7 separate regions of the Homo sapiens genome follow, and regions 1, 2, 3, 4, 5 and 6 are each linked to region 7. A link means that fine-mapping ties the variant in region 7 to the plasma level of a protein whose gene starts in the linked region. Region 7 holds a variant in brackets. A gene starts in each other region. All regions are shown on their reverse strands.

Evidence for each region. PIP is the posterior inclusion probability: the model's chance that the variant is causal. Protein levels are from antibody-based Olink assays in UK Biobank. Linkage for the fine-mapping came from a reference panel and not from the study's own genotypes, which makes the PIPs less certain.
Region 1: it holds the start of OMD, and the variant in region 7 is fine-mapped to the plasma level of the OMD protein (UK Biobank, PIP above 0.99).
Region 2: it holds the start of EBI3, and the variant in region 7 is fine-mapped to the plasma level of the EBI3 protein (UK Biobank, PIP above 0.99).
Region 3: IL27 starts here. The variant in region 7 is fine-mapped to the plasma level of the IL27 protein (UK Biobank, PIP above 0.99).
Region 4: AMBP starts here. The variant in region 7 is fine-mapped to the plasma level of the AMBP protein (UK Biobank, PIP above 0.99).
Region 5: CRNN starts here. The variant in region 7 is fine-mapped to the plasma level of the CRNN protein (UK Biobank, PIP above 0.99).
Region 6: TNFRSF11B starts here. The variant in region 7 is fine-mapped to the plasma level of the TNFRSF11B protein (UK Biobank, PIP above 0.99).

Annotation. Positions count from the first base shown.
Region 1 is chr9:92,422,679-92,426,678 of GRCh38, reverse strand. OMD (osteomodulin) reads left to right here and starts at 2,208. Exons shown (of 3, transcript NM_005014.3): 1 at 2,208-2,477. The region is part of intron 5 of CENPP (centromere protein P); the gene reads right to left.
Region 2 is chr19:4,226,967-4,231,450 of GRCh38, reverse strand. EBI3 (Epstein-Barr virus induced 3) reads right to left here and starts at 1,928. Exons shown (of 5, transcript NM_005755.3): 1 at 1,834-1,928; 2 at 128-260. The coding sequence starts at 1,900. RefSeq lists enhancers at 154-655, 1,619-1,708.
Region 3 is chr16:28,503,225-28,507,224 of GRCh38, reverse strand. IL27 (interleukin 27) reads left to right here and starts at 391. Exons shown (of 5, transcript NM_145659.3): 1 at 391-444; 2 at 3,175-3,347; 3 at 3,432-3,530. The coding sequence starts at 414.
Region 4 is chr9:114,076,035-114,080,518 of GRCh38, reverse strand. AMBP (alpha-1-microglobulin/bikunin precursor) reads left to right here and starts at 2,219. Exons shown (of 10, transcript NM_001633.4): 1 at 2,219-2,426; 2 at 3,779-3,921. The coding sequence starts at 2,310. It overlaps LOC107987120 (a long non-coding RNA gene), which reads left to right. Exons shown (of 3, transcript XR_001746905.1): 3 at 1-579.
Region 5 is chr1:152,411,828-152,416,311 of GRCh38, reverse strand. It overlaps CRNN (cornulin), which reads left to right and starts at 2,049. Exons shown (of 3, transcript NM_016190.3): 1 at 2,049-2,098; 2 at 4,066-4,216. The coding sequence starts at 4,079.
Region 6 is chr8:118,948,500-118,952,499 of GRCh38, reverse strand. TNFRSF11B (TNF receptor superfamily member 11b) reads left to right here and starts at 615. Exons shown (of 5, transcript NM_002546.4): 1 at 615-708. The coding sequence starts at 679. It also overlaps a transcript of COLEC10 not described here.
Region 7 is chr17:28,395,190-28,399,499 of GRCh38, reverse strand. SARM1 (sterile alpha and TIR motif containing 1) reads right to left here. Exons shown (of 9, transcript NM_015077.4): 8 at 3,474-3,595; 9 at 1-3,343. The coding sequence ends at 3,214. It overlaps SLC46A1 (solute carrier family 46 member 1), which reads left to right. Exons shown (of 5, transcript NM_080669.6): 5 at 1-4,310. Among named protein-coding and RNA genes, the nearest start is that of SLC46A1, 8.9 kb to the left of the region's middle. RefSeq lists enhancers at 915-1,004, 1,769-2,452, 3,136-3,819. The variant C/T (reference allele first, on the strand shown) is at 1,251.

The DNA of each region.
Region 1 (4,000 bases), not on the chromosome of region 7:
CATCTGCCATACAGTAACTTAATTGTTCCATTCCAGTCCCCACATACAGCGGTGCCTGAACTGTTGACCCGTACCCCCATGCCTCATTCATTTTTATCCCTTTACCTTGCATTATTCTCTTCCATCGCACTCTACATTGTTTATATTCTGCATTTTATGCTTATTTATGTTTATTTTCTGTTTTCCTTCTCTATAACAGAGACTTTCACTGCTGAGTCCCAAGCATCTAAAATCTGCACAAAGTAGGTGTCCAGTGAATAAAGTGGAACAAATGAGCAGAAAATTGTAATGCTTATTATGTTAATTAAGCAGGTCTCAGGAGGGCCTTTCCTAGCCAGTCCTGTGTCACTCAGCTTTGAGATACTGAATCTATTTCAATCAAAGTATAATCATAGCATATAATTTACACTTTTCAACAATTCAACTCCTTTTCTCCCCAATTGCTACAATTATAACCACTTAACTAAAACAGTGAACTATTACAAACTCACATCCCCTATTTTTTCCTTTAAGGCCTGACTCTAACTACCACCACCTCCCCCCATCCCCATCCCTTGCCACCTTAAACCTCCTAGATAGACACTGCCAATCAGTTTAAATTTTCTAGACATTTTTATTCTGTCTGCTCTAGTTATCTACTGATTTTTCTTTCACACTTGTTAAAAACATGAATAACATAATCAATATCATAAATCCAAATCACAGAGTTAATGAGAAGTTATATAAACATTAGGCTGTTGATTTTCAGTTAATCTTCCAAAAGGACTGTGAAGGCCTATAAAACAATTTTTTGAAAAAGTACACAGATTTGCTCTCTCTTCCTTAGTGAAAGCCTGAGTTTTAAGAACAAAGACACTAACAGAAAACATATGGAAAAGATCAGTAACAAGATGGAATCTTGGCTAAAGTGTGGTCTGCCACGTTTTTCATACCAATGTCTCAAATAATAGACTAGATTTTTACAACTGCCAAAGCATCACTTGAAACACTGTATACTTTTCTTAATGCAAAGTTTAACAAAATAAATCTTGTGAGTTCTTTGTAAAAAGCTAATGGAAAACACTTTTTTGAGGAAACAAAATGAACTCCAGGATTCACTTTATCTTATTAGTTTGTAAAAGCTTAAAAGAATTCCCCCCCAAAATGAACTCCGAATCTACTGCCAAAAGACACAAGTCAACTCTCTGTTTAGAATATGAGAACAGTGTAAAAATTAAACATTAAAAACAGTTAACTGTTACTATTCAGGAGAGATAGCTCTATGAAATGAAGAAATTTTCTAAATCTACAAAATAAAGGCAATAGCTATTGAGTAACATAAGCTTTTCATCCCATTTTATTCAATACTACAGAATTATTTTGTGCAATAGTAAAAACAGGCAAATTGAAGATACACCTTTGGAGTGCAACCAACTGACTAATTTTATCTGAAAGGATATTAGAAGTCATTCTAGTGGGTACATCTGCCAAAAAGAGGAGAAATGAGATAGCTGATAAAAATGATGATAAAAATGAAGATGTAAGCCTTTGTATAGAAAAGTCGTATAGTTAATCTGTGTAAGCAATGACAATCAAGTGCATTTTAAAAATAAACAATGCGAAATGTTATGTTTCTAATCCTGATTTCTTGTTTTAACAAATAGAAGTACTGATATGAACCTAGGTGTTGAATAACCAAGGGACTCAAGAAATTTTGAGTTCCAGGCCAGGCGTGGTGGCTCATGCCTGTAATCCCAGCAATTTGGGAGGTGGAGGCGGGAGGATCACCTGAGGTCAGGAGTTCAAGACCAGCCTGGCCAACATGGTGAAACCCCATCTCTACTAAAAATACAAGAAATTAGCCAGGCATGGTGGCTCATGCCTGTAATCCCAGCTACTTGGGAGGCTGAGACAGGAGAATTGCTTGAACCCGGGAGGTGGAGGTTGTGGTGAGCCGAGGTTGCACCACTATACTCTGGCCTGGGCAGCAAAGCAAGACTCCATCTCAAAAAATTAAAAAAGAAATTTTGAGTTCCACCTTAAGTTGCTGAGACTCTGGAGTTCCCTGTCACAGTGGGCCTTAATTTGAAGAATTCTTTGGCATGAAAATGAAAATAAAAACAGTAATCAGTACATGCTGTTTCATTTAGTTTTGTTTGCCTTTCACATTAGAGGAAATTCTTGCCACACCTCAAACCAAAATTAAGGGGAAAAGAAAGAAGTAAGCCACATAAATCTGACCAAGAACACAAGCATCTTAATTTGAATCCACAAAGTTTCATGTAATGAAAAGAAATACATAATTTTAATTCAACCCGAGTGTTTTCCAAGAAGATTGTATTTGCTTAAATTGCTACAGTAATTCAAGAGACAGCCCTGTCTGGACACAGAGTTACTGTGGATTTTTAAGAGACTCAGTTAAAGAATTTAGGAATTTCTGATTCATTTAAAGGATTTACAAATTCATCAACCCCTGAAAACTAAAGCAAATTGAACAGGTATGATAATAAAATAATTTTCAATTTTTTAAGAATGTATTCCTACTGTTAAAATTTAAAAGTATATTGGATTTTTTAATATTAAAATAGACTGCATCTATTACAAAAGCACAATTTTTGGAAGCAAAATCTGGTAAAAAAGTTATGTTAAACTTTTGATTAGGCAAAATGTTCAAATAAAGTAGTATAATGAGTTTAACTTTCTCATTTAAGATTTACCCAATAAAAAATCTTTGTTTAGATTTTTTTTTACTTTGAATGAAAGGAAAGATTCTCAGGTTAAAGGAATCAATCTCTTTCTCTTCCTTAGGTCTCTTTTTTTCTATGAATTATAAGTAACAAAGAACCAGCTAATGCCTTTGAGGCATACAGCTGAGCAATGCTAGTGATTCCGGTTGGGGGGTTGATGGGCATTTGTACAAATTTCACTCAAGATTTTCTCCAAATTTCTCTACTGACTAAATCCCTGATATAGAATGTTTTTCTTTTCATTTACTTCTTTCTCAAAGGGAAAATACAGATGCTCTATCTAGTCTATTGAAGGATCTAGTTACTTTGGGTTTTAGTTAATTACGATTTAAATGTATTATGGCTAAAAATAATTGAGGTAATTGTATTTTTAATAGCAAAAAAATTTTATAAAATTAAAATTTAGAACTTTTTTGGAAAAATCTAAATTATATGCTAATATTTGCTTTCTTATATGCTAGTTTCTATGTCATACAAATAAAAACAATTATGTCTTTAACATAATAAAATGTTGAGGATTTTACTTTAAACTTTTCCTGAACAAGTAAATTATACCTCATTAGTAATTTCAATTGAAACTTTTCTTGATGAACACGAGTGCTTTTCTCCAAGTAAGAGAAATATTATGACACAGATGGTTTTATTGCTATAATATGAAAAATTCACATTGAAAACTGGTAATATATATATATTACTTTGCTCCAAACATTCTTTTTCACATTTGTTCTTTTCCTGCTACACGATGTACTAGGAAAGTGAGGAATACAGTATATTGTGATGAAGAAATATTCAATAGAAAAAGGAACAGTCAAGCTCTCATGAATATGTTCATTTGAAGAAATTATCATAGTGAAATAAATGCCTAGGAATAATCAACATTAGTAGAGAGAAGCATTTGCTAGCAAGCCTTAACCTATAACTTATTAACTTATTCATTCAACACACCTTTGAGCACTTATAACACTGCATTGTATTAGATTCTGTTAAAAGATATTAGGAAATGAGATGATCAACAATGAATTATACAATATTGCTGTGAGTTATCCTATAGAGAACAAGGCATACATTGTAGAGTATGAAAAGCAGAAGTAACAAAAATATGCTTAGCAAATGACTCAGAAGAGATTAGTTGGGGAATGAAAAATTTGGATAAAATAAGAGATTGTTGTAACAGGGGAAATTATCCTGGGGAAAGAGCAAGAGGCATAGAAAATAATGAGCATATAGATGAAAACAGGATGGATTTCAAAACAGAAAACTGCACTTAATCAAAG
Region 2 (4,484 bases), not on the chromosome of region 7:
ATTCCATAGGCCTGGGGTTCAGGATGTCGGGGTCTCCAGTTTTCCTGACCCCAGGGCTCTCAGGGCCAGAGTTCTGGGCTCTCCAGGAAGTCCAGTGTCCCTGAGGCCCCCTTCCAGGCTCTCCGACCTGTACGTGGCAATGAAGGACACGGGGCTGGTGGAGTTTGGAGCAGGCGGCAGGGTCCAGGAGCAATCCACGGCGATCGGGTACCGAGAGGCTCGGCATTGCACCCGGGGCAGTGTCAGAGCTGCTGGGGGCCCTGGAGGAAGACAGAAAGAGTGAGCTTCTGGTTTACCCCCAGATTGTCATAGCCCTCCCGTGCGCTGGGCTCCTGCCACGTTGCCAGCCAGCACCAGGTACATGGTAGGTGCCTAATAAAGGCTTTCGGAATAAATAGGTACATGGACAAAAGTCATCTGTCATCTTTTATCCCCACTGCAATCCATCTAGGTGAGGACTACTAGCCCATTTTCCAGATAGGGAAGCTGAGGTTTAAGCATCTACAGAGAGGAACTCGGGTAAGAGAGAGAGATTTTACCGTGTTCTCTCTTTTGTAATTGTTTTTTTTTTTTAAAGAGGGAGTCTCCCTCTGTCGCCTAGGCTGGAGTGCAGTGGCGAGATCTCGGCTCACTGCCACCCCCGCCTCCCGGGTTCAAGCGATTCTTAGCCTCCCGAGTAGCTGGGATTACAGGCATGTACTGCCACGCTTGGCTAATTTTTGTATTTTTAGTAGAGAGGGAGTTTCACCATGTTGGCCAGGCTGGTCTCAAACTCCTGACCTCAGGTGATCCACCTGCCTTGGCCTCCCAAAGTGCTGGAATTACAGGCGTGAGCCACCAAACCCAGCCTATAAATTATTATTATTATTATTATTTTGAGACAAGGTATCCCACTCTGTCACCTAGGCTGGAATGCAGTGGCACAATCATAGCTCACTGCAGCCTCCAATTCCTGGGCTCAAATTATCCTCCCACCTCAGCCTCCCAAGTAGCTGGGACTACAGGCACGTGCCACCACATCTAGCTAATTTTTTAATTTTTTGTACAGATTGGTGGGGTCCGGTTTCACTATGTTGCCCAGGCTGGTCTCGAATTCCTGGCCTCACGATCCTCACGCCCTGGCCTCCCAAAGTGCTGGAATTACAGGCATGAGCCACCATGCCCTGCTGTAACCATTTTGTCTTCAAGGACATGGAGATGTTCTCTAGTGCAAAATGAATGAATGTCGGCCGGGCGCGGTGGCTCACATCTGTCATCCCAGCACTTTGGGAGCCCGAGGTGGGTGGATCACCTGAGGTCAGGAGTTCAAGACCACCCTGGCCAACATGGTAAAACCCTATCTCTACTAAAAATATAAAAAGTAGCCGGGCATGGTGGCGGGCACCTGTAATCCCAACTACTCGGGAGGCTGAGGGAGGAGAATCTCGCTTGAACCCAGGAGATGGAGGTTTCAGTGAGCTGAGATGGTGCCACTGTACTCCAGCCTGGGCGACAGAGTGAGACTCTGTCTCAAAAAACAAAACCAAAAAGAAACCAAAGGAATGAGTGTGACTCAAATTCGCATGTCTGTGTAGCTATGTCTGTGTAGCTCTATGGATACCTCTGAGCTGTGACTGCCAGTCCCTATCACCCACAAGGTGACATCCTTCCACCCCCAATGTGGCACTCTGCCTCTCTGTGCCTCAGTTCCTCCATCTGTACAATGGGAGGGTAACCCCATCCCACCATTGGGCACGGGAGGATGTGATTTCCCACCCCAGACATGATCCGAGGCCAGTCCTCGTGTCATGTCCGTCTGCCTGGGCCCCCCAGTCCCCCAGGGGCCCCACATACCTTTCCTTCCACTGCAGGGCGGGCAGCTGGCCCAGAGGACAAGGGCCAGGAGAAGCTGCGGGGTCATGGCTGCGGCCAGCTCTGCTCTCAGGAGTGGGTGGGAACGTCGTGGGAGACTTGAGAGGGGAGGTGAGGACTTGGGACCTGCCCAGGGGAAAGCCCAGCCCAGGGTCAAGGCCCGCCCCCTCCCCGACTTCCTTCAGGTCTGACTCACTGGTGGGGCTCGTGGGGCCGCTAGGGAGATGAATTAGGGTGTGGAGGAGCCCCAGCCCCCTGGGGAGCACAGGCCACCCCTGCTCGGAAGGCCCCGAGGGTGGGGGCGGGGGAGGAGGCTGTGAAAGGGAGAAGTGGAGACCTGCTGGCTTTTCCCAGCACAGCATGTCCTGCTGGCCTTCCTTCCGCTGCCCTGAAGCGGGGGAAACCCCAGGCAGGCAGGCAGGGGCTCAGGGACATGGAGGGAGACAGAGGCAGAGATGGGGGAGAGAGGCAGAGAGACAGAGAAGACAGAAGGAAGACACAGAGAGACAGGGAGATGACAGAGACAGAGACACAGAGAGAGACACAGATGAGAGAGGCAGAGAGACAGAGACAAGAAGAGGAGGACACAGAGATAGAGGGATACAGAGACAGGGAGATGACAGAGACAGAGACAGAGAGACACAGATGAAAGAGGCAGAGAGACAGAGACGAGAGGAGGAGGACACAGAGATAGACAGGGAGATGACAGAGAGACACAGAGACACAGATGAAAGAGGCAGAGAGAAAGAGACGAGAGGAGGAGGACACAGAGAGAGAGAGACAGAGACAGGGAGATGACAGAGACAGAGACAGAGAGAGACACAGATGAGAGAGGCAGAGAGAAAGACAAGAGGAAGAGGACAAAGAGATAGAGAGACAGGGAGACGACAGAGACAGAGAGAGATACAGATGAGAGAGACAGAGATGAGAGGAGGAGGACACAGAGATAGATAGAGACAGGGAGATGACAGACAGAGAAAGGGGCATGACAGAGACAGAAACACAGAGAGAGACACAGAGATGAGAAAGGCAGAGATGAGAGGAGGAGGACACGGAGATAGACAGGGAGATGACAGAGACAGAGACAGAGACAAAGATGAGAGAGTCAGAGAGACAGATGAGAGGAGGACACAGAGATAGAGGGATAGAGAGACAGGGAGATGACAGAGACAGAGAGAGCTACAGATGAGAGAGGCAGAGAGACAGATGAGAGGAGGACACAGAGATAGAGGGATAGAGAGACAGGGAGATGACAGAGAAAGTGACAGAGATACAGATGAGAGAGGCAGAGAGACAAATGAGAGGAGGACACAGAGATAGAGAGAGACAGAGACAGGGAGATGACAGAGACAGAGAGAGATACAGATGAGAGAGGCAGAGAGACAGAGACGAGAGGAGGAGGACACAGAGATAGAGAGACAGGGAGATGACAGAGACAGAGAAAGGGGGATGACAGAGACAGAAACACAGAGAGAGACAGAGATGAGAGGAGGAGGACACAGAGATAGATAGGGAGATGATAGAGACAGAGAGAGACAGGGGAATGAGAGAGACAGAGACAGAGATGAGAGGAGGAGGACACAGAGACAGAGAGAGACAGGGAGATGATGGAAACAGAAAGAGAAACACAGAGAGCAGACAGACAGAGGAAGAGAGACAGAGGGACAGAGATAAGAGAGGAAGACAGAGATAGGGAAATGAGAGAGACACAGAGACAGAGATAAGGGAGGAAGACAGAGAAAGAGAGACACAGATGGGAAGATGAGAGACAGAGACAGAGAGACAGAGATGAGAGAGTAGGATAGACAGAGATAGAGAGATGGTGGGGCACGGTGGCTCACGGCTGTAATCCCAGCACCTTGGGAGGCCAAGGCAGATGGATCACCTGAGGTTGGGAGTTCGAGACCAGCCTGACCAAAATGGTGAAACCCTGTCTCTACTAAAAATACAAAAATTAGCTGGGCGTGGTGGCAGGCACCTGTAATCCCAGCTACTCTGGAGGCTGAGGAAGGAGAATCACTTAAACCTGGGAGGCAGAGGTTGCAGTGAACCAAGATTACACCACTGCACTCCAGCCTGGGTGACAGAGTGAGACTCCATCTCAAAAAGAACAACAACAACAACAAAAAGACTGATGGGGCAATGACAGAGATGGAGAAAGAGAGACAAAAGAGAGACAGAAAGAAGACAGGAAGACAGAAATAGAGATACGGGGAGATGACAGACACAGAAAGAGAGACAGAGAGATAAGAGAAGACGACAGAGGGCCGGGTGTGGTGGCTCACGCCTCTAATCCCAGCACTTTGGGAGGCTGAGGCGGGCGGGTCACAAGGTCAGAAGTTCGAGACCAGCCTGGCCAATATGGTGAAACCCCGTCTCTACTAAAAATACAAGAATTAGCTGGGCGTTGTGGTGCGCACCTGTAATCCCAGCTACTTGGGACGCTGAGGTGGGAGAATCGCTTAAACCTGGGAGGCGGAGGTTGCAGTGAGAGGAGGTTGCAGTGAGCCGAGGTCACGCCACTGCACTCCAGCCTGGGAGATAGAGTGAGACTCTGTGTCAAAAAAAAAAAAAAAAAAAAAGGCTGAGCGTGGGGGCTCACACCTGTAATCCCAGCACTCTGGGAGGCCGAG
Region 3 (4,000 bases), not on the chromosome of region 7:
GCAATCCCCTTACCTGGCTATCCATCTTTGGAAGGACAGTAGACCCTAGGATGATGGTGGCAGAGCCGAGAATCAGGAGGGGGTTTGGGACTCTGGGATCAACCAGTGAATAGGGCTGGATGGCTCACCCAAGCATGGGACATTGAGGACAGGGCTGGACGTGGGAGCTTAGCAGTGAGTCTGGAGCTTGGATGTCCCGAAACCCCAGCTTCCCGTCACCCCCCATCATACCTCCCACCCCCTCCGGGAAGGGAAATTACATTTCCCCATTTTAGCAAGGGGTGGCGAGAGGGAAGAATGAGTGAACACAAAGCTGAAAGTACAAGCAGGACGGAAAGTGAAACCGGGCACAGCCCCCAGTATAAGACCCCCCCTACCCAGGAGATGGCTGACCAAAGAGGCTGGGCCCCGCCATGGGCCAGACGGCAGGCGACCTTGGCTGGCGTGAGTTTGAAGCCAGGGGTGGGGGGCTTGGTTGAGTTTGGGCAGAGAATGGACGAGCTTGGCTGGTGCAGATGGGGGGTCGAGAGCTGAGAGCAGCAACTTGGCCAAGACTGAGGATTCGGCTGGCTGCTGCATGGGAAGGGAGGCTGGCATGACTGGGTGGGGGCCTGGGGCAGTGGGGTGGTGGTCTGACCCAGGGCTGGGCAGAGGATGAGAAGGAGGCCTTGGCTAGTGGGAATGGGGAGGGTTGGACCAGCAATTTGACAAGGACCAGGTCTAGGCAGATAAATGAAGAGTTTGGAGTGAATAAGCAGAAGCCAAACAGCTTGGCTAAGACTGAGAATGGGGCCGGCTGGAGGAAGAGCAGAACGAGGTGCTGGCACAAGTGGAGCACTGGGACCAAGATGTCAGCAGCCTCACTGGGTCAAAGGTCTTTAGTTTGATGTTGGAAAGAGGTCCAATCTGCGGCTGGTGGCTGCAGAACTCAGGGGCTAGAACCAGAGCAGTAGGCAGTGGAGAAGGTAACATGCCACGTAGGGCAGGTAGGGACCAAAGGCTGGAGGATGGAGACAGAGCCTTCAAAGGCCAGAGCCAATGACCCAGGATCAGCTGCAGAGGGTAAGGAGGGGGTCTGGGGTCTCCAGAGGTCAGGTTGGAGATGGCACAGCTCACTTACGGTTGGGCTTGATCCACCAGGGCCTGGGGGCACCCACCCTGTCCCCAACATTGAGCTAGGAAGAACCCCACTCTGCCTTAAGTCTCCAGGATGTCAGAGGGTCCGAGTGGCCCCAAAACCAGGGAGTCTGAATGCCAGAGATCTTACGTTAGGCATCGCCCACCACATCTGCAAGCCCACGAGGGAGGTAGATGTCCCTAGAAGCTCCCCTTCACCTTTATCAGGGGACATTTCGAAGAGCAGAGCCCAGGGGTTAGAGATTGAGAGAGGACAGGGAAGAGGCAGGGAGAGAAGGGAGAGCAGGATGGACTTCGGGCCAGTTTTGGTTTGTGTTTCGAGGAGAATTGTGTAACTCTTGTGCTTGCTAGATTTCCTCTCCCTGAGGGGGAAATTGATGAATGCTGCCCTCTTCCTAGAGCGCCCATCCGCTGCCCCTCTTTCCAGGAAAACACAGGTCAGGAAGCACACTCGGAATTCAGCCATTCTGGGCTGGGCGCAGTGGCTGATGTCTGTAATCCCAGCACTTTGGGAGGCCAAGGCAGGCGGATCACCTGAGGTCAGGAGTTGGAGACCAGCCTGGCCAACACGGCAAAACCCCTCTCTACTAAATATAATAAAAATTAGCCAGGCGTGGTGGCTACTCAGGAGGCTGAGGCAGGAGAATTGCTTTAACCTGGGAGGTGAAGGTTGCAGTGAGTCGAGATCGCGCCACTGCACTGCAGCCTGGGTGACAGAGTGAGAATCTGTCTTAAAAAAAAAAAAGCTCCCATACTGTGGATTCGCCCCAGGCAGGTTACCCTGCTAGGATCCACCTGCCGTGGTGGAAACTGGACAAACCTGTCCTTTTGACTCCCTGGAATAGAGCCTCTGGCATTGCCAGCCCATCCCTGGGGACCTCATGGCCAGTTCAAGCCATCAGAGCCGCTTGGCTGAGCCCAAAGAATCCTTGCCAGAACATGGTGTGCCCACTCCTGGGGCAGATGGCTGCCTCCCTCTGCATTCTCTGGGGAAAACCCATGGGCTCTGCATTTGGAAAAACCTGGAATCCAGTCCTGGCTTCCCACCTTCTGGCTATTTGACCTTGGGCAAGTCAACCTCACTGAGCCTCACCTGCAAATTGGGGAGAACAATAGCACTGAGGCTGCCACACGTGGTTGTGCAGGTTGCTCACTGAAAAAGGCATTTGGCCAAGGGAGTTTATGGGGGTCAAAATCCAGTCTCTGTCCCGGCACAGTGGCTCATGCCTGTGATCCCAGCAATTTGGGAGGCTGAGGCGGGAAGATCTCTTGAGGCCAGGAGTTCAAGACCAGCCTGGGCAACATAGTGAGACCCTGTCTCTACAAAAAAATAGAAACAGTTAGGCACAGTGGTGTGTCCCTGTGATCCCAGCTACTTGGGAGGCTGAGGCGAGAGGATCACTTGAGCCTAGGAGTTCAAGGCTACAGTGAGCTGTGATCACACCACTACACTCCAGGCTGGGTGATAGAACAGAACTCTGTTTCAAAAAAAAAAAAAAAGGATCAGGCTTCTGGTCTTTTTGCAAAAGTGGGCACACCATGCGGAGATGCCATATGGGGGCCGTGCTGGCTGCATCGTGGGGTTTTGTTTTGTTTTGTTTTGTTTTGTTTTTTTGAGACAGAGTCTGGCTCTGTCGCCCAGGCTGGAGCACAGTGGTGTTAGCTCACTGCAGCCTCTGCCTCCCAGGTTCAAGCGATTCTCCTGCCTCAACCTCCTGAGTAGCTGGGATTACAGGCATGCACCACCACGCCCAACTAATTTTTGTATTTTTAGTAGAGACAGGGTTTCGCCATGTTGGCCAGGCTGGTCTTGAACTCCTGGCCTCAGGTGATCCGCCCGCCTCGGTCTCCTAAATTGTTGGGATTACAGGTGTGAGTCACCGCACCCAGCCTCCATTGTGGTTTTGAGGAGGCAGAGGAATGATGCTGGTCAAAGTGCCTGCACCGTGCTCACAGCTAGCACAGGCTCAGAAAAGGCATGTTCCCTTCCTTCTCAAGCTCTCTCCCTGTCTTGCCACCCTCTTCCCATCTCTCCAGGGCTCAGCCTGTTGCTGCTTCCCTTGCTCCTGGTTCAAGCTGGTGTCTGGGGATTCCCAAGGCCCCCAGGGAGGCCCCAGCTGAGCCTGCAGGAGCTGCGGAGGGAGTTCACAGTCAGCCTGCATCTCGCCAGGAAGCTGCTCTCCGAGGTTCGGGGCCAGGCCCACCGCTTTGTAAGTCCCCCTAATGCAGCTGGCGCTGGAGATGGGCAGACCCCCAATCCCTTCTGGCCCCCACTAACAGACCTTGCCCCCCAGGCGGAATCTCACCTGCCAGGAGTGAACCTGTACCTCCTGCCCCTGGGAGAGCAGCTCCCTGATGTTTCCCTGACCTTCCAGGCCTGGCGCCGCCTCTCTGTGAGTGAGGGCTGGTGGAGTGGGGCGGGAAGCTTGTGATAGGCTGGGGCCAGGGTGCAAGATGAGGCTGGAGATTGAGCTGGAGATGCATTGGGGATAGAACCTGGATAAGGCTGAATATGTCATTGGACATAGAGATGAAAGACAGGCATGGTGACTTACACCTATAAACCCAGCACTTTGGGAGGCCCAGGTGGAAGGACTGCTTGAGGCCAGGAGTTCAAGACCAGTCTGGGCAACATAGTGAAACTTTGTCTCTACAAAAAAAAATTTAAGAGTTAGCCAGGCATGGTGGTGTACACCTTTGGTCCCAGCTACTCAGGAGGCTGACATGGGAGGATTGCTTGAGCTCAGGAGTTGGAGGCTGCAGTGAGTTATGATCCTGGACTCCAGGATGGAGAACAGAGGGAAACCCTGTCTCAGAAAAATAAATAAACTGCCAGGCGTGGTGGCTCATGCCTGTAATCCCA
Region 4 (4,484 bases), not on the chromosome of region 7:
TACCATCATTAACTAAAACATCAAAGATTGAGAAACTTTGTGAACACAAGGAACACGAAGATAACTGTCCCAGAAAGCTAAACCAAGACAGTAACTGTGCTTAAACTTACATCATGGCTTTGAGCTTCCTAGCAGCCAAAGCAAGAAGGGAATATAATCACTGGCCAAGGTTAGGGTGACGGAGCAAAGGAAACACATTTATGAATAGAAGCACACTTGTTCTGGATACCAGTGAAAGAGGGATGTACTGACTGAATCTTACAGAAGGGACATGATACACCATTTGTTTCTGCACTGACTACATGGGGGAATCCTTTGATTCTCACATAAGCAGGGGTCTTAATCTTGGGACTGCCTGCCCGAAGGGGTCATTCCCAGCTCTAACAGAGAGGTGGCTGAGAGTATGGAATGTTCCATGCCAAGAGCAGGGAGGAAGTAAGGACAGTAGATTTAACCACTGGAGAAGGGAAATTCATAGAGAGGCCTTTGGTATTGCTGGCAAGAGTGTGAGCTCACAGACAACGGACCTGGGTTTTAAAAAATTCTCATTTAAAATCTTAAATTTAGGCTGAGCGCAGTGGCTTACGCCTGTAATCCCAGCACTTTGGGAGGCTGAGGTGAGAGGATCACCTGAGGTCAGGAGTTAGAGACCAGTCTGGCCAATATGGTGAAACGCTGTCTCTACTAAAAATACAAAAATTAGCCAGGCATGGTGGTGGGCACCTGTAATCTCAGCTACTCGGGAGGCTGAGGCACAAGAATCACTTCAGCCCAGAATGTGGAGGTTGCAGTGAGCCGAGATCGCACCACTGCACTCCAGCCTGGGCGACAAGAGTGAAACTCCGTCTCAAAATAATAAATAAATAAATAAAACCTTAAGTTTAATAACTACTGTATTAGTTTCCTAGGGCTGCTAGGAAATGTGTCTTCTCTCAGCACTGGAGGTCAGACACCTGAGACCAAATTTTCAGCAGAGCCATGTTCCCTTTGAAGATTCTGGGGAAAAGTCCTTCCTTGCCTTTTGCTAGCTTTTGGTGGCTGCCATCAATCCTTGGTGATTTTTGACGTGTCACTGCATCCCTCCCATCTCTGCCTTCGGCGTCACGCCACATCTTCCCCGTGCTTCTCTCTGTGTCCCTGTGTCTGAGTCTCCCTCACCATTCTCTTATAAAGATACCGGTCATTGGATTTAAAACCCCTGTCATCCAGTTCAACCTCATCTAACTAATCACATCTGCAAATCAGGTTCATTCTGCGGTTCGGGGTGCACATGGATTCTGGAGGGGGCACTGTTCAACCCACCACAAACACTCAGCTCTTACTCTATGCTGGGTACTGTCCTAGCGCATTGCAGGTGCTCACTCAACAATGCTAGGAGCTAGGAACTATTATTATCCCCATTTACAGATGAGGAAACCAAGGCACTGAAAGGTAAAGTGACTTGCCCAAGGTCACACAGCAGTGAGTGCCACTGTAGGCTGCCTGGCTCCCACGTCCATGGTCTCTACCACGCCTTTCCCAGCTACTCCACTCCCGGCTGAGGGATTCTGGGCAAGTCACTTCACTTCTTGGAGACTCAACTCCTCTGCCTGTAAAGGGGACAAATAGCACCTACTTCGTAAGCTTGTTGTGGGGATTTACTGGACACCTGTGGCACGTGTAAAGTGCCTGGTACACAGCCAGCACATAGCAGGTGCTCAGTGAACGGAAGCTCGTAACAGTCATCATTGTTAATGTCTCTATTATTTGCAAAGGCTAGGGCAAGCCTGGGGGCTGGAGAAGGAACTCTGGAGACAGGATACCTGGGTTCTGGTCTTGGCTCTGCCCATAGACTTCCCTGAGGTCTCTGGCAAGTCACTTCCTCTCCTTGGGCCTCAGTTTTTTCCTGTGAGAAATGGGCCCAATCAGGCTTGACCTGCTGGCTCACAGAGCTGTGAGGTCCAGATGGCATGACTCAGCAGAAAGGCCAGGTCGCTCCCCATCCTCGCATGCCCTCTGTGGGGGACTTTTGGGGGGCGGAGCCCAATCCTGGTGCTCCAGGGCCCTATTGTGCTTGGCCAATGCCTCTTCTGAAGCAGCCATCCCGGCCTCTTGGTACTGCTGACCCCAGCCAGGCTACAGGGATCGATTGGAGCTGTCCTTGGGGCTGTAATTGGCCCCAGCTGAGCAGGGCAAACACTGAGGTCAACTACAAGCCACAGGCCCCTTCCCCAGCCTCAGTTCACAGCTGCCCTGTTGCAGGGAGGCGGTGGCCCTTCTGTTGCTAGACCGAGCCTGTGGGATATACCAAGGCAGAGGAGCCCATAGCCATGAGGAGCCTCGGGGCCCTGCTCTTGCTGCTGAGCGCCTGCCTGGCGGTGAGCGCTGGCCCTGTGCCAACGCCGCCCGACAACATCCAAGTGCAGGAAAACTTCAATATCTCTCGGGTAAGGCTGCCGCTCTCTGTGGTAGGGTGGATGTGGTGATGGGGAGTCCAGGCAGATGGGCCCTGCTGGGCAAGTGCGGCCTGTCTCGGGGTCTCAGGCTTCCACTCAGATCATCTGGGATTATGGGATCCTTTGAAGGTACAGCTCTATCCCCTGCCATTCCGTGGGTCTCTTGGCTGACATTCTATGAGTCAAACATCCTCACCTTCTGCACTGTCCTCGTGGGCTCCAAGGGGAACCCTTGTGTTAATGGGAACCTGCTCCAGAGAAGGCTTTGTCCTGCCTGCCACTGCCCTGCAGCCCCCGTGCAGACACCTAGCTTTGCCCAGACCTCCCAGCCCTTCCTTCTCTAATGACTCCCCTCTCTCTGTGGCATCTTTCCCTTAGCTCTTCCTGTGTCCCCTGCCCACATCCTGGCCTGACTGTGGACAGACACCTGGGGTGGCACAGCGTGGGCATGTGGCCAGCAGCTTTTGGGTTGGGCATGTGGGGCTTATGGGAAGAGGTGAAGCAGGACAGAGATTAGGGTTGGGAGACATTCAGAGGCTTGGGCACAAGGAGAGACCTGGACTGGGGCAGGACACTCTCCTGTGAGTGTGGAGTGCCAGAGCTGCCTTCCAGCCCCCACTCTGCCCTAAATCCCGGGGTGGCTTTGAGAATACCCTTGCCCACCTGGGGCTGTCTCCATGTCTGTATGAAGGGTCTCAGAACCTTCTAGCTGTGGTGTCATGTGGGTTTTGTTTACTTTTAGGGACAAGGAAAGGTCGTGGCAGAGGGGCAATGAGGAGCAGGTCCCTGTGGCAGTCTGGGACGCAAAGGGTGTGGGGCACATTGGCCTGTTCCGTAGGAGCCTGAGGGCTCCTTCAGCTGTCCCGTGCACTTTCAGGAGGAAGAGGAAGCAGGCCTATCCTGAATGACCCCATCATGTTCATTATACTTTTGAAATAATTCCTAACATGGGGCTGTGGGCTGCCTTGCAAGGTGGGGAGCACCCCATCATTGGAGGAGTAAAAGACAGGACTCCAGCTCTTGGGGAGCAGTGGTTGATGGAGCTATGGACAGATCCCACATCTTGAGAGAGTTAGCCCTTCTGCAGGGCAGGTTGGGACCCCAGCCGCACACCTGCTTCCTGGGTTCGCTGTGATGCCTGAAACGCCACTCTTAGGGATCTGGCCTCCCTTGAAGGTGTGTGGCCTCTGATTAGTTGTAAGACATTATCCCTTAAAAGGATAAGTCATTTTGAGGAGAAGGAGGAGGAAGAGGAGGAGGTGGAGGGTGGGGAGCAGATGTCAGCCAGGTCTGCTTTGAGGTCTGAGACTGATGCAGACCCCCAGAGCTCACCTGCCTCCTAGATCTATGGGAAGTGGTACAACCTGGCCATCGGTTCCACCTGCCCCTGGCTGAAGAAGATCATGGACAGGATGACAGTGAGCACGCTGGTGCTGGGAGAGGGCGCTACAGAGGCGGAGATCAGCATGACCAGCACTCGTTGGCGGTGAGCACTAGGGTGGGGCTGGAAAGCTGAGAGAGACCCAGAGACCCACAACCTTCCCAGCCCCGTCCATCCTGGGAAGTTGCAGATCTCTGCTTCCAGTCAGGACCTTCCCGCTGAACCCCAGATCCCTCTACGCTCCTCCACCAGGACGGCCCTTTTCAGGTGTCCTATCTATTCCTCGAGGGCAGTGTCCCAGCACTGTGCCTGTTCTGCAAACTGCTCCTCCCCCTTGGGCATTCCTTAGCCCAGTGTGGGTACTTCAGCCCCCCAGGGACCCAACCTGGGAACTGGGCTCCTCTCTCCCCTGTCACCCATCATCAAGTCCTGCCCATTCTCCTCCTAAATCCCCCCCAACCTGTTCACTTCTCCCCTCTCCACTGCCACCATCCTGGTCCAAGCCACCTCCCTTTCTTTCCTGGTTGTCTGCCACAACCTCTCTACTCTTTCCTCACCTCTGACCTCCACCCTTCCACCCCATCCCCTCTTCACCCAGTAACCAGAAAGACCTTTTGAAAACTCACATCTGCTCGAGACCCTTCCATGACTCCCCAATGCCCTGGGAG
Region 5 (4,484 bases), not on the chromosome of region 7:
CCCTAACTTACCCTCAGTTCCCAAACCTTTCTGGAAGTTCTAAGCCCCATCAGAAAAAGCTTCAAACACCACCACAGAAGAAGGTCTAATCGGCTCTCCCTCTTGTTCTCCAACTTCACCCTCTCATACTGGCCTTCTTCTAACTCTGATCAGGCAGAAGCAACCTCAGCCCCCTCTTGCTCCCAAAGGTTGAAGCCCCTACTCTGCTTTTCCCTGGCTGGTATGCCTACCCCACCTTCACCCCAGGACTGGAGCCAACCTGTCCCCATGTAGACAGATCTCTCCAAACACAAAGCCTGCATCCTGCCCTCCTGCAGTCTGGAACTCCCCAGTGCTCTGTGCCCTGAGGGGAAGTGCTGGAGGCTGTGCTGTTGCTACAGGGCTGCCCTCAATACACCAGTCTCTTCAACCAAGGCCCTTACCATGCCTTCCTATCCTGTTGTTCCCTTTCCTGTCTGTTGCATGCTGATCTATAAGTGAGGATGGTAAAGATGGCTTTCCCTTCCAGAGTCACTCAGGAAGCTACACAGTATATATTATCTGCAAAGTGCCACTCAAGAGCACTCTTTGGGACTTGGCTTCTGAGCTCAGAAAACTTCCTCCTCAGGAATGGTTCTTCATGCATTGAGGATAAGTGTGATGTTCATAAGGTGCCAAAACTCAATGAGAGAAGAATAAATGGCAGCATGGTGCAACAGAGAGAACACAGGCCTGGAGTCTGAGGGGCTCTAGTCCAGCACCGTCTCCGCTTCACAGAGTGGCTACTTCTCTGAGGATTTCTCAGTGTTCTCATTTATGAATTGGGCTTAGCCATACCACCTCAGAGGATTGCTAGGGAGATCAAATAAGATGAGATGGTAATGAAAATGGAATAAAATCAAATGAAATGAAATGGCAATACCATTATCATTAACCTCTTGGGGACTTACCCCTGGGATGGCCAGGCTATAGACTTCATGAGAGTTGAAACTGCTGCCATCGTATTCAACACTGTATTCCTAGGGCCTTAGCCCTCTGCCTGAAATGGAGCAAGCTTTCCATAAATATTTGCTGATTAGCCACCAGTTGAGTTTCCTGTCCTTGCAATGAGGAGTTACCACATGATCATGGTAAGCCTTTTTTCTCATCAGCTACAAAATGCTACCTACCCATAGCATGGGGTGGGGAAGGTATTAACTTTTTTTGTTTTAATTAAAAATGAGACCAACTTTAAAGAGATGAAACTGGCTTTCTTGTGTCTCATACACTAGGTGTGAAAGGCACTTACAAAACAAGAATTCAAAAAATGTTCTAAGTAATAACAGTTCTAAGTAACATCACCACAAAAACATGTGTGCCCTCTCAGAGTGGCTACTTTGTAAAAGTTAACCTCAATAGATATATTCTTGAACATTTATATTAAAAAAGGAAACAGTGGCCAGGCACGGTGGCTCACACCTATAATCCCAGCACTTTGGGAGGCAGAGGCAGGTGAATCATGAGGTCAGGAGTTCAAGATCAGCCTGTTCAACATGGTGAAACCCTGTCTCTACTAAAAATACAAAAATTAACTGGGCATGGTGGCAGGCACCTGTAATCCCAGCTACTCAGGAGTCTGAGGCAGGGAATTGCTTGAACCCAGGAGGCGGAGGTTGCAGTGAGCCAAGATCGCACCACTGCACTCCAGCCTGGGCGACAGAGCAGGACTCCATCTCAAAAAAAAAAAAAAAAAAAAAAGGAAAGAGTCCCATAACTTTGTAGGCTCATAGAGACAAAGAATGTTCACCAGGACCCCAGCCTGTACCAAGCACTGCTGAGCCCATCACAATGGAAAGAAGCTTCCCTGTCAAGAGGACTCAGCTACAGAAGGTACCAAATGTGGTAGGAGGGGCCTGTTAATTAGACCAAGGCAGTCACACATCAGCAGGTAAAACAGAGACAAGAGGAGGTGTGGCTGGGCTGGGCTGGATCTTGGATGAATCAAGCCTTCCCATAGGGCAGGATATCCTGTCTAAAACAAGAGCCTTGGTTAAAACCCCTATAAAAGGTTCTCATCACACTGACCTGGTACTCCTCACACCACTTAACAGCCACTTGTTTCATCCCACCTGGGCATTAGGTAAGTCCCCTCATAAGAAACCTCTTTCTCATTCTCAGTGTCTTGGTGATCTGAGCTCATAAAACTGGGGCAGTCAGGTATGGACTATGCATCCTTCAGAGCTAGCTGTGAGCACTGGGCAAACCAACGCTACCGTTGGGAAACATGCTCTCCTGAAGCAATCAGGCTTTCTCCTCCTCCCTGAGGCTGGCCTGGGAGCAGCTCCTCTCACTGGGAAACTGTGTGGGCAGCGGCTATGGGGCCACCCATGTGCCTTCCTGGATCAGCAAAGGTTTCTTTTTTCTAAGGCTCTGGAAGCTTCTTTGCAGTGCTGAGAGTCTATGGGATCAGAATCAGTTTACTTATGCCAACCTAGACAATAAGATCAAACTGTGTCATGGATGAAGGGGTTTACATGATTCCCCTCTCCTACACCAGGGTGATATTTAGGCAAAATATGTGTAGATTTTTCTAAGGAATCTAAAATGTAACTAAAAGGTCATCTTATTATTTTATTATCTAAAGGTCAGTGGTTAAAGTCTGCTACATGGTTTTAAAAAAAAAGAAAGATATTTTTCATCTATGTTGAGGAAAACATCCCCAGTTTTTTACCTTGATGAAAAGTTTGCCTGAAATTGTTGGTTACCAGGTCCTAGAAAGGGTTTCTCCTGAACAGCCCACCTTTTGCTATGACTTACTGAGTCCTCATGGCCACACTAATCTGCTTTTTCTAGAACTCAAGTCTCCTTCCTTCCTTTTTTCTCTTTCTTCTCCTACCTATATCTGCCTCGTCCCATCCTCTCTCTGGCTTTCCAGCTGCTACAGGCTCCATCTCCCCTTGCATTTGAGACTTGTCATCTTTGATACCATCTCCTCCTTTGGGTCTCTCCAAGGCTTCTGCTTAATGAATCTTCAAGTCTCTTTTCCTTTTGCTCATGCAACCAAACCCAGGCCTCACCTCAACCTACCTCTAGATTTCTGGCTAATGAAAAAGAAAAGCTTTCCCTTTGATTAGGAACCAACTCATAGGTCACCAGAAATCTGGGCCTGATGGAGCCACGTGCCTGTTGGGCAAGCTGACTTCTCTGATAAGTCTCAGGGCTGTGGACAGAGGCGACATGCAGAGAAACTTGGACCCTCAGAACTGGAAGGCCTCCCACCCAAAGAAGGTTCCCCCCTCCTGAGCATTCCCAGCAGGTGGTAGCCCAGTTTCTTCCCACTTTCCCAAAAAAAACAAGAAGGGAGGGCTGTGTCCCTGGAATTTCTGCTTGGCTCCCATCCAAGACAGGGGTTGACTCACAGATGTATTTACTTCCTTTTGGTGTTCCCGATGGGACCCTAACACCCTTGTGATAAATAAATAAATCCTGTCCACAGGGTACATTCTAGAAAGCCCATTGCATTTGGGTTAAGGAAAAATGGATCCTAGGATTTCTTGGCTCCTTAAAAATTGTGTGGCCTAACTTCTCTGAGCCTGTTTCCTCACCTATAAAAAAAAGTGGAAATAATAAGGATTAGAAGAGATGATGTACAGGAAAGTGATTATATAGGTGTACAAAAATTATATGTGTGTATATGTATATAATAGCATAATAATTATATTTAATAAGGAGCACTTAATATAAGCCAGGCATCTGCCAAGTGCTTTTTATGAATTATGTCTTTAAATCTTCACAATAATCCCACAGAGTACTAATATCACCTTCAATTACAATGAGTAGTAAACTGAGGCATGGAGAGGCAAAGCAACTTGTCCCAGCTCACACCATACTTAAGTGGTGGGGCCAGCATTTAATCCTGACTCAGGAACCTGCCTCCATCCTGTGTGCTCCTCCTTCCCATACATAAGATGCATTATGTAGGAAAGGACAAAGGAAAACTAAAAACAGAGCTGAACGTGCAAGGAAAGACCTAGCAGCAGACGTGCTATAAAGGAAATAGCTGAGGTTGATTATGGAGCCTCCAAGGGAACTTTTCATCTTTTCCAGGTTGACTTCAAAGATGCCTCAGTTACTGCAAAACATTAATGGGATCATCGAGGCCTTCAGGCGCTATGCAAGGACGGAGGGCAACTGCACAGCGCTCACCCGAGGGGAGCTGAAAAGACTCTTGGAGCAAGAGTTTGCCGATGTGATTGTGGTACGGTGTGCTGAGCCGGGTGGAGAGGGGACATAGCAGGAGAGTGAAACCTGGTTTGCCTGCAGAGGCCTTGCCTGGGGAATTTGAGGAGGCAGCAGCTAAACCCAGGCCTGCCGGGACAGATGGCAGCTGTGCAGGCAGAAAAAAAGGTGAAAGAACCAGAGATGGTCATGGGAGTTGGCAAGTCCTGGCTCTTTAGATTAAAACCTTGGTTTTAATTAATTCTAACTTAAAGACAAGGTAAAAGGGCTCTAAAAGGACAACTCAG
Region 6 (4,000 bases), not on the chromosome of region 7:
AATGATTGCGAACTCCCCGAAAAGGGCTCAGACAATGCCATGCATAAAGAGGGGCCCTGTAATTTGAGGTTTCAGAACCCGAAGTGAAGGGGTCAGGCAGCCGGGTACGGCGGAAACTCACAGCTTTCGCCCAGCGAGAGGACAAAGGTCTGGGACACACTCCAACTGCGTCCGGATCTTGGCTGGATCGGACTCTCAGGGTGGAGGAGACACAAGCACAGCAGCTGCCCAGCGTGTGCCCAGCCCTCCCACCGCTGGTCCCGGCTGCCAGGAGGCTGGCCGCTGGCGGGAAGGGGCCGGGAAACCTCAGAGCCCCGCGGAGACAGCAGCCGCCTTGTTCCTCAGCCCGGTGGCTTTTTTTTCCCCTGCTCTCCCAGGGGCCAGACACCACCGCCCCACCCCTCACGCCCCACCTCCCTGGGGGATCCTTTCCGCCCCAGCCCTGAAAGCGTTAACCCTGGAGCTTTCTGCACACCCCCCGACCGCTCCCGCCCAAGCTTCCTAAAAAAGAAAGGTGCAAAGTTTGGTCCAGGATAGAAAAATGACTGATCAAAGGCAGGCGATACTTCCTGTTGCCGGGACGCTATATATAACGTGATGAGCGCACGGGCTGCGGAGACGCACCGGAGCGCTCGCCCAGCCGCCGCCTCCAAGCCCCTGAGGTTTCCGGGGACCACAATGAACAACTTGCTGTGCTGCGCGCTCGTGGTAAGTCCCTGGGCCAGCCGACGGGTGCCCGGCGCCTGGGGAGGCTGCTGCCACCTGGTCTCCCAACCTCCCAGCGGACCGGCGGGGAGAAGGCTCCACTCGCTCCCTCCCAGGAGAGGCTTGGGGTTAGGCTGGAGCAGGAAACCGCTTTCAAGTTATGCCATGCTTCCCCTAGGGTGTCCTTTTACGCTGCAAAGTTCCTGCTGACTTTATGGAAGACAGCAAGAGAGAGACAGACAGCGAGAGAGAGGGAGAGAGAGAGAGAGAGAGAAACTTGTTTGAAAGTTTTAGTCATTAACCTTCTGTCTTCATCTCAGAATATTAACGCCCTCATGTAGTCCATACTATCTTTGCTTAATGAACTTGAACTTTTATTATTAGTGGCAAAGAAGTGGTCCCTTAGATTCAGAGTAAGTTGGAAGAAGACGTTAGTCTTCTTAAAACCATTATAATTAGAATATGACATGATAGATTTTTCTAATGTAAATATTATGTGAAATTTTGAATAATTAGGAGAAAAGATCTCTCACACACACACTTCTTAACTGTGTAATGTTTTAATAAAATTTTATTGTTAAAATTATTTCACTTCTCAACTTCAATATACTGTGGAGAATATTGGCAGTATGTTATGTTCTAAAACATATCTAAAGAATTGAAGTTCACTAAATAGGGCTAAAAATTGTGTTTAAAATGTTATTTGGAAAAGAAAGGAATCTCTGTGACTTAGCTTTTTTTTTAAGCTTAGGTTTTGATCAAGTTAATAAGATTTGCATGTAGGTTTTTCTATGACCAATGACTTATTTTCTCTATGACACTAGAGTGTAGAGTACATCAAGATATGAATCAGACATTTATGCAAGGCTAGGAAAAGCCATATTTAAGCCACATATGTGTTTTGGATGTGTTTGAGTAAATGTTTGAACTTCAACCTCCAACCCACAAATAATGAATAGAAGGCTAGGTAGTCTTCTACTTAGTTCCTAGGATACAGAAACATAAATAAGTAAATAAATAGTAAAGACACTAAAGAACAGGTAAGTTGGATAGGAATCTACCCATAAGTATGTTAAAATATATATGTATGTATGTGTGTGTGTGTATAACTTCATCGCTAGAGATACTATGGAGTGCTTTTAAAAAAGTAAACCTTTATTAAAATATAACACATAGAGAATTGTGCAAGTGGTAAGTGCCTAATGCAGTTTTTCTAAGTGAGCACTTGTGAGCTAGCACACAGATCAAGAAATATATTATCGGCACCTCAAGAGCTTCCATCACTACTGTGTCTATGGCCAGAACAATCAGTATTCTGATTTGAACAACATAGATGAATTTTGCTTGTATTTGAACTTCCTATAAATGGAACTTATTCAATTTTTTGCATTTGACTTCTTTCACTGAAAGTTCTGTTGTGAGATTCATCTCTACTGTAGGATATAGAATAATTTGTCCGTTGTCATTGCTGTATGGTATTCCATTGTATGGACACACCACAATTGATTTAATCATCCTAGTTTTGGGCTAGTATAAATAATGCTGCCGTTAATATGGGGACATTTTTATTCTTCCTAGCCCTTTTTATTTTGTCAAAGATTTAATTAATAACAAACATACTAGCAATGAGTTAAATTTCAGGGTTTCCACTAAATAATATATGTTTCTATTTAGAAGTATCCATAAATTTAAATAGTAAAATATTTTTATATGTGGTCTGTACAGGAAGATAGACAAACATGTAGATAATACTAATTTTAGATGATACAGCATTATCAGAAGATAAGACTTCGTATATGTCTTGAACACAGTAAATACTTTATATAGGAAGAATTTTGCTTCCCCTTTCTTTAGCTTCTGAGACTTACTTTATTTTGAAAATGATTGCAAATGGACACTTTGTATTTACACATAGAGTCCAGATGCCCTTTTGTAAAACCAAGGTGCCACTGTAGGAACTAGAAGCACCACAGATATTTATTTCTTTATAATGGGCATTCCACTGGCACTAGGCATCAGGACAGTGTGAAAAGCAAGATAGACACTATTCCTTTCACCATGGACCCATAGTCTAATGGAGAAAGCAGATATTGGGCAAGTAATTGTGTATATAGAGTTGCAAAGAAAGAAACTACTGGGTGACTTGGGAATATAAAAGATTCTGCCATATAGCACCTTATAAGGGAAGCTGCTAGTGCAGTGTTATCATGTGGACCAAAAATCAAATACCAGTACCACCACTTACCTGAGAAATGACTGTGGCCAAGTTACTTCTTGAGTTTTAGTTTTGTCTTCTATAAAATGATAATAATGATATGCATATATCCAAGATGCCCACATAAAGTTTCTGCTTCATATCAACACTAGCTCCTAGCATGATGCTCACAGATAACTAACTTTAGGACAATCTAGATCCAAGTGAATTATGTAAACGAAGTGCTGATGATACTCAGAGGAGGGAGAGATGGCCATCTACCGTCATCCTGGAGGAGGGGTATGACGTTTCATTGTTGGAGATTTAAAATCAGGCATCTTGGACCAAAGAAGTGAGAGAAGGCAAGATTGTGTAGCAAAATAGAATTCTAGATTCTTTTTGTGAGTGCAAAGGGTATGCTGGTAGGCAAGCAGGGAAGGAGGTAGGGATGGGATGTTGTCATTAGTACTAATGTCATAGACATGGGCTTTCCTGGAATGTTCCTTAATGCAGTTAAGCAGAGGCCTGCTCTGCTTCACTCAGGCTTAGGTTTTAACTGATGGCTGAAACTTCCCATCAAGTAGTATCGGAACCATCCATTGAACTTCTCAAAGCTAAGTTCTGAATTAATGTTATGATACTAGGAGTTGGGGTGGAGAAGTGGGCAGGGAGGGGTAGATTTATTTTTTTCTCAGGAAAAATGTCTGGTCTGTCTGTTTTCCTGTAGAATAATGCCTTTGGGGGCTTTTTGTTGTTTTATTGTTATTTTGGTTTCCTCTCCCTCCCCCTAGTGGTTAAGTTTTTTTTTGTTTGTTTGTTTGTTTTTTTGTTGTTTTGTTTTAAGAGAATGAATACTCTGAAGTTTCTAGGAAAATCTGACATACCCTCAATCCAAAACAGTCCTGATCCCTGTCCGTAGCAACGTTCCTGGCCCGGGTCACCTAGCAACCTCCAGCACAATTTCTAATTTCAATCTAGTTTCAAATTTTACTTAAGCTGAAACTACAGCTGTGAAATTCCACTGATTGAGGAAGTAAGCGTTCTGCACCAGATGGTTTATCCGGTTAGTTCTAGAAGGAGAGCTATGGCAGTGCTGATCAA
Region 7 (4,310 bases):
ACCCCATCCACAGCTGACCCAGCCTCTGTCTAGGATCTAGAATCATAACCCACACAGGCCCACTGCAGGACAGGTGGCAGAGGAGCTATTTGGGACAGGAGTCAGTTCTCCCTTTCTGCTATCCATCACTTATAACCCCACAGGCCAGAGGAGAGGTCCTGAGAGAGGTGACACTTCAGGGACCAGAGGCAGCACGAGGGCTGGCATCTCTCCTTCCAGCCCAAACTGCACAGCCCCAACCAGGTTCCCAACACGTGTAGCAGTCATCAGCCATTCCTTAACAATGAATGTGGTACCTGGTTAGTGCCAGCCTTGGGAAGGAGGGAGGGAGGTAAGAGGGGCTTGGTGATCTCTGGAGGAAGAGTGTTGCCTTTGCTGTGGTTGGGGAATCGATCCTTGGCTATGGCCTACCCACTCCCCTGGCTGAAGAGTGCCAATCATTACAAATCAGCTTCAGCAAACTGAAACAAACCTTCTGGTGCCTTGGGCTTTGGGGCCCTCTGTTTTCCTGCTCCCAGTCTGCCTGCCATACGTTAGACAACAGAAGCTGCTGGGCTGGGCAGGAGCCCTGAGCTGCCTGGTGGATTGGTACCAAGTGGGGCCAGCCAGGGCTTCTACTGACTCGCTGTGCAACCTTGAGCAAGCCCCACTAGGAACGGCTAGATCAGCAATGCCCCAAATTGTTGAATCGTGGTGATCACATTTGGATGGACAAGTTAGGAAACTTAGCTGATTCTCTGAGATACTTCCCACTTCCTCATACATTCTACAATGAGATGCCTCTCTTCATGGGCCTGGGGAAAGGATGAATGAGTGTGGCTGGACTTTTGACCTTTAATGTCCCTGAGCAGTTCTTGGCCCTTGGGGAGAAGTAGGGGGAGGATCTGGCTGACTCAGCCCCAACCGAGGGGTAGCAGCTGCAGCCCAGCCAAGCAGAACACCCTGGCCCTACAGACCTGTGTCTGAGCAGGCTTTGGAGGAAAGGCCACTTCTGAGTCCTCTGTCTCAGGAGAAGCCAGGCCTAGGTGCTTGACCTGGTGATCTGAGCTGTGTTTGTCCTAGTATGGGTGGCAGTCACCTCTGAACACACTGGCCTTGGCTTAGAGGAGGCTTGTGACTTCAGCTGTTCCAGCTGGGGCTGGATGCTGGACTCTGATTCCCTCAGAGAGACAGAAGATCGGGCAGAGGTCAACCAGAAGGCCACACAGGGCAGTGGACAACAGTGGAGGGTATACCAAATAGAAATAAAA[C/T]GCAGGAAACCTCTCTGAATACTGCCCTTGGGGACCTCAGGAGGGAGTGGGACTGATTGGAGACAAAGAGCCAGAAATCATCCCCTGGAGATACTCAGACACTGTATTGTTATTGGCGCTGTCCTGTGAGGGCAGTGTCCAGGCTGCCCTGCTTGTCATATCCATGCCCTGGCTCTGGCCCCGGTGAGCACTTGTGCTGCATGAGGAAAGGAGGATCAGGTGGGGTCAAAACCAAAGCATCGAGGCTGGCACTGGCCAAGACAGACTCTGGCAGGGAGGGGAGTGGAAGGAAGGAGCCCCAAACCTGGAGTGAGACCTTTGACTTTCTGATGATGTGGCCAAGAACTAGGAGTCACCTGGCCAGCACAGCCAAGAGTGGGGCTGGGGGCGCAGCCAGCTTTAAGGTGTCAACACCTGGCCCTTGCGGGGAAAGAGCCTTCAGCAGCCCCCACGGCCTGGAGCCTGGGTTTATTGGAGGGTGCTTTCTTACCCTCTGAACCCAGTGGAGGAGGGGGCAATGGGATATTCCTGCTCTGTATGGCCTCTGGGTCAGCTTTTTGTTGCAAAATCCTATCCCCCGCTGCTAGATTCTTTGAAGCAAGGGAGAAGCAATAGCCCAGCCTCAGAATGATTCTCAGGAAAGCAATTCCACTGCCAGTGGACTGGGTGCCAGGAGGCCTAGGTCTGGATCTGGGGCTGCCACTAATGACAGGAAAGTGGGCTTATCCTCAACCTTTCTGAGCCTCAGTGTCATTATCTGTAAAATGGGGATGATAATACCAGGTAGAGTTGCTCTGATGACTGGAGACCATGGAGCGGAGTGTTTGGGAAATGGCAAAGATTTGTGAGGGCTTCGTGCTTTAGAGATTTGCTACCCTTAACCACCAGCATCAGCTCACCTGGGAATCTGTAAGAAATGCAGAGTCCTAGGCCCCACCCCAGATCTCCTGATTTTAACAACATTCCCAGGTGACTTGGATGCATGTTAAAGTTGGAGAAGCTGCCCTAAGTGACAACCCTTTGCCTTTTCAGGACTTTGCCTCTTTCCACAGAGCTGCAGGTTCTGTCTAGGCTGCTTTTACTGCCATGGGGGCTGCCTGGTCCCTGAGTAAGCAGTGGGTAGCCCTGGATGGCTGAGGGGCTGGGGAAGCCAGCTGGGCCAGACCAGGAAGGAGCCTGAGGCACAGCACCAAGGCATGGGGTAGGGTGGGCTTTGAGGCACGGCCTCCCCATGCCCAGACCCAGGCCCAAACAGGAGGCTCCTGTGCACCAGCAAGTGCAGCAAAGCTGGCTGCAGTGACAAGGAAGTCAGAGGGAGGGCTGGTTTGCCTCAACCCTCGCCCTGGATGTGGCAAAAGATACCACACCGAAGGAAGCTGTAGGGGATCTGGGACTTAGTCAGGCTAGCTAAGGGCACTGAGTGATTACAGGGCAAGGCCACAGAGCGGCAGGAAGTTGTAAGTGCAGGGGCCAGGCACAGTCTGAGTGGAGAGCCATGATGGCACTCATCCCTGGCTGGCTCCTGGGCCCAGGCCCTTGCTCAGAATACAGTGCCCAGGCCCGCCTGGGCATTGCCTTAATTCCTGTCTGAGGCTGCCTTCCGTCATCCTCCTCAAGCTGACTGCTATCAGCAGGAGAAGGGAATGCAGAACCACCCCCACCCCAACTCCAGTGTCTCCAGAACTGAGCAGGGACCCTCCCCATGACGGAGACAGACAACCCAATGGCAGGGCCTGGGGGAGTTCTAACCTCCCGTGCCCAAGCCTGACTTCCCTTCCCTCTCCAGATACTGAGGAAAGTGGGTTGGAGGTGGGCCATGAGGGTGGGGGACAGGGGGAGGGAGAGCCATTTCCTAAGAAGAGCCCAGGTTGTCTCAGCCCAGGGAGACTGGTTTCAGGAGCTGTTCCTTCAGAAAGGACGATGGAAATGGAAGTCACAGCAGGGCTGGGGAACTGGGGACTGGTTAGGTTGGACCCATGGGTGCAGCACCCTCCAAACTGGTGTCAGAGCCTGCAGATGAGTCCCGGGAGGAGCGGCCCTGCAGGAAGCGGATGATCTTCTCAATGGTGGCCTCCTGGTATTCGTGGGACCACCTGTGGGCACAGGAGCCAATGTGGTTCAGACAGCTGGGCAGAGGGAGCTGCTAGTCAGCTGTTTGCCCACACTCTGCCTGTCATGGTGATTTGTACCCTACCCCCCTGGTCCCAGGGCCCTGGGGCTCACTTGATACCGTTGAAAGTAAGCACAGCCTGCATGTCCTCAGGCAGGACCTGGGGCTCAGGCCACTCGAAGCCATCAATGATGGGCACAATGTTCTTGCCGCAGCTTAAAGCAGTCACAATCTCCTGGAGAAAGAAAGGAAAGGAGGAAGATACCCCTGTACCCATCTAGGGACCCTTGTAGCCAGGCAGGTGCTGGGAGGCCCACTGGCCCGAGGCTGGGCCCAGGGCAGGACACCAGTCCTGATGTCCACCTTGATGTCTACCTTAACCCTTGTAGTGTAATAAAAAATAAATATTTTTCCTTTGCCCAGAGTTCCTGGCACAGAGCTGCTAAAACCCTTGGAATCTCTTGAGTGATGAGTGTCTTTGTATGCTAAAGAGATGATTCCCCACTGGGGGCCCGGGGGGTGCTATGGGGGTAGCCTAGATAGTTTCAGGAAGAGGGCTGGTCACCAGGGAGACCAGGGCATGACTAGAGGATTGGAACTTTCAGCCCCACCTCCCAGCCTCCAGAGAGGTGCTGGAGATTGAGTTCAATCACCAATGGCCAATGATTTAATCAATCATGCCTACATAATGGAACCTCCATAAAAACCCCCAAACAAGGGGTTTTGAAGAGCCTCCAGGTTGATAAACAGGTGTAGGTGCTGGGAAGGTGGTAGAAGGCATGGCATCCACACCTCCACCCTCCATACGTAGAGATCCTATGTATCTCTTCCATTTGGCTATTCTTGAGCTGTGTCCTTTATAACTGTGAAATTAAATAATTCAGCTGGGCATGGTGGGTCACGCCTGTAATCCCAACACTTTGGGAGGCTGAGGCAGGAGGATCACTTGA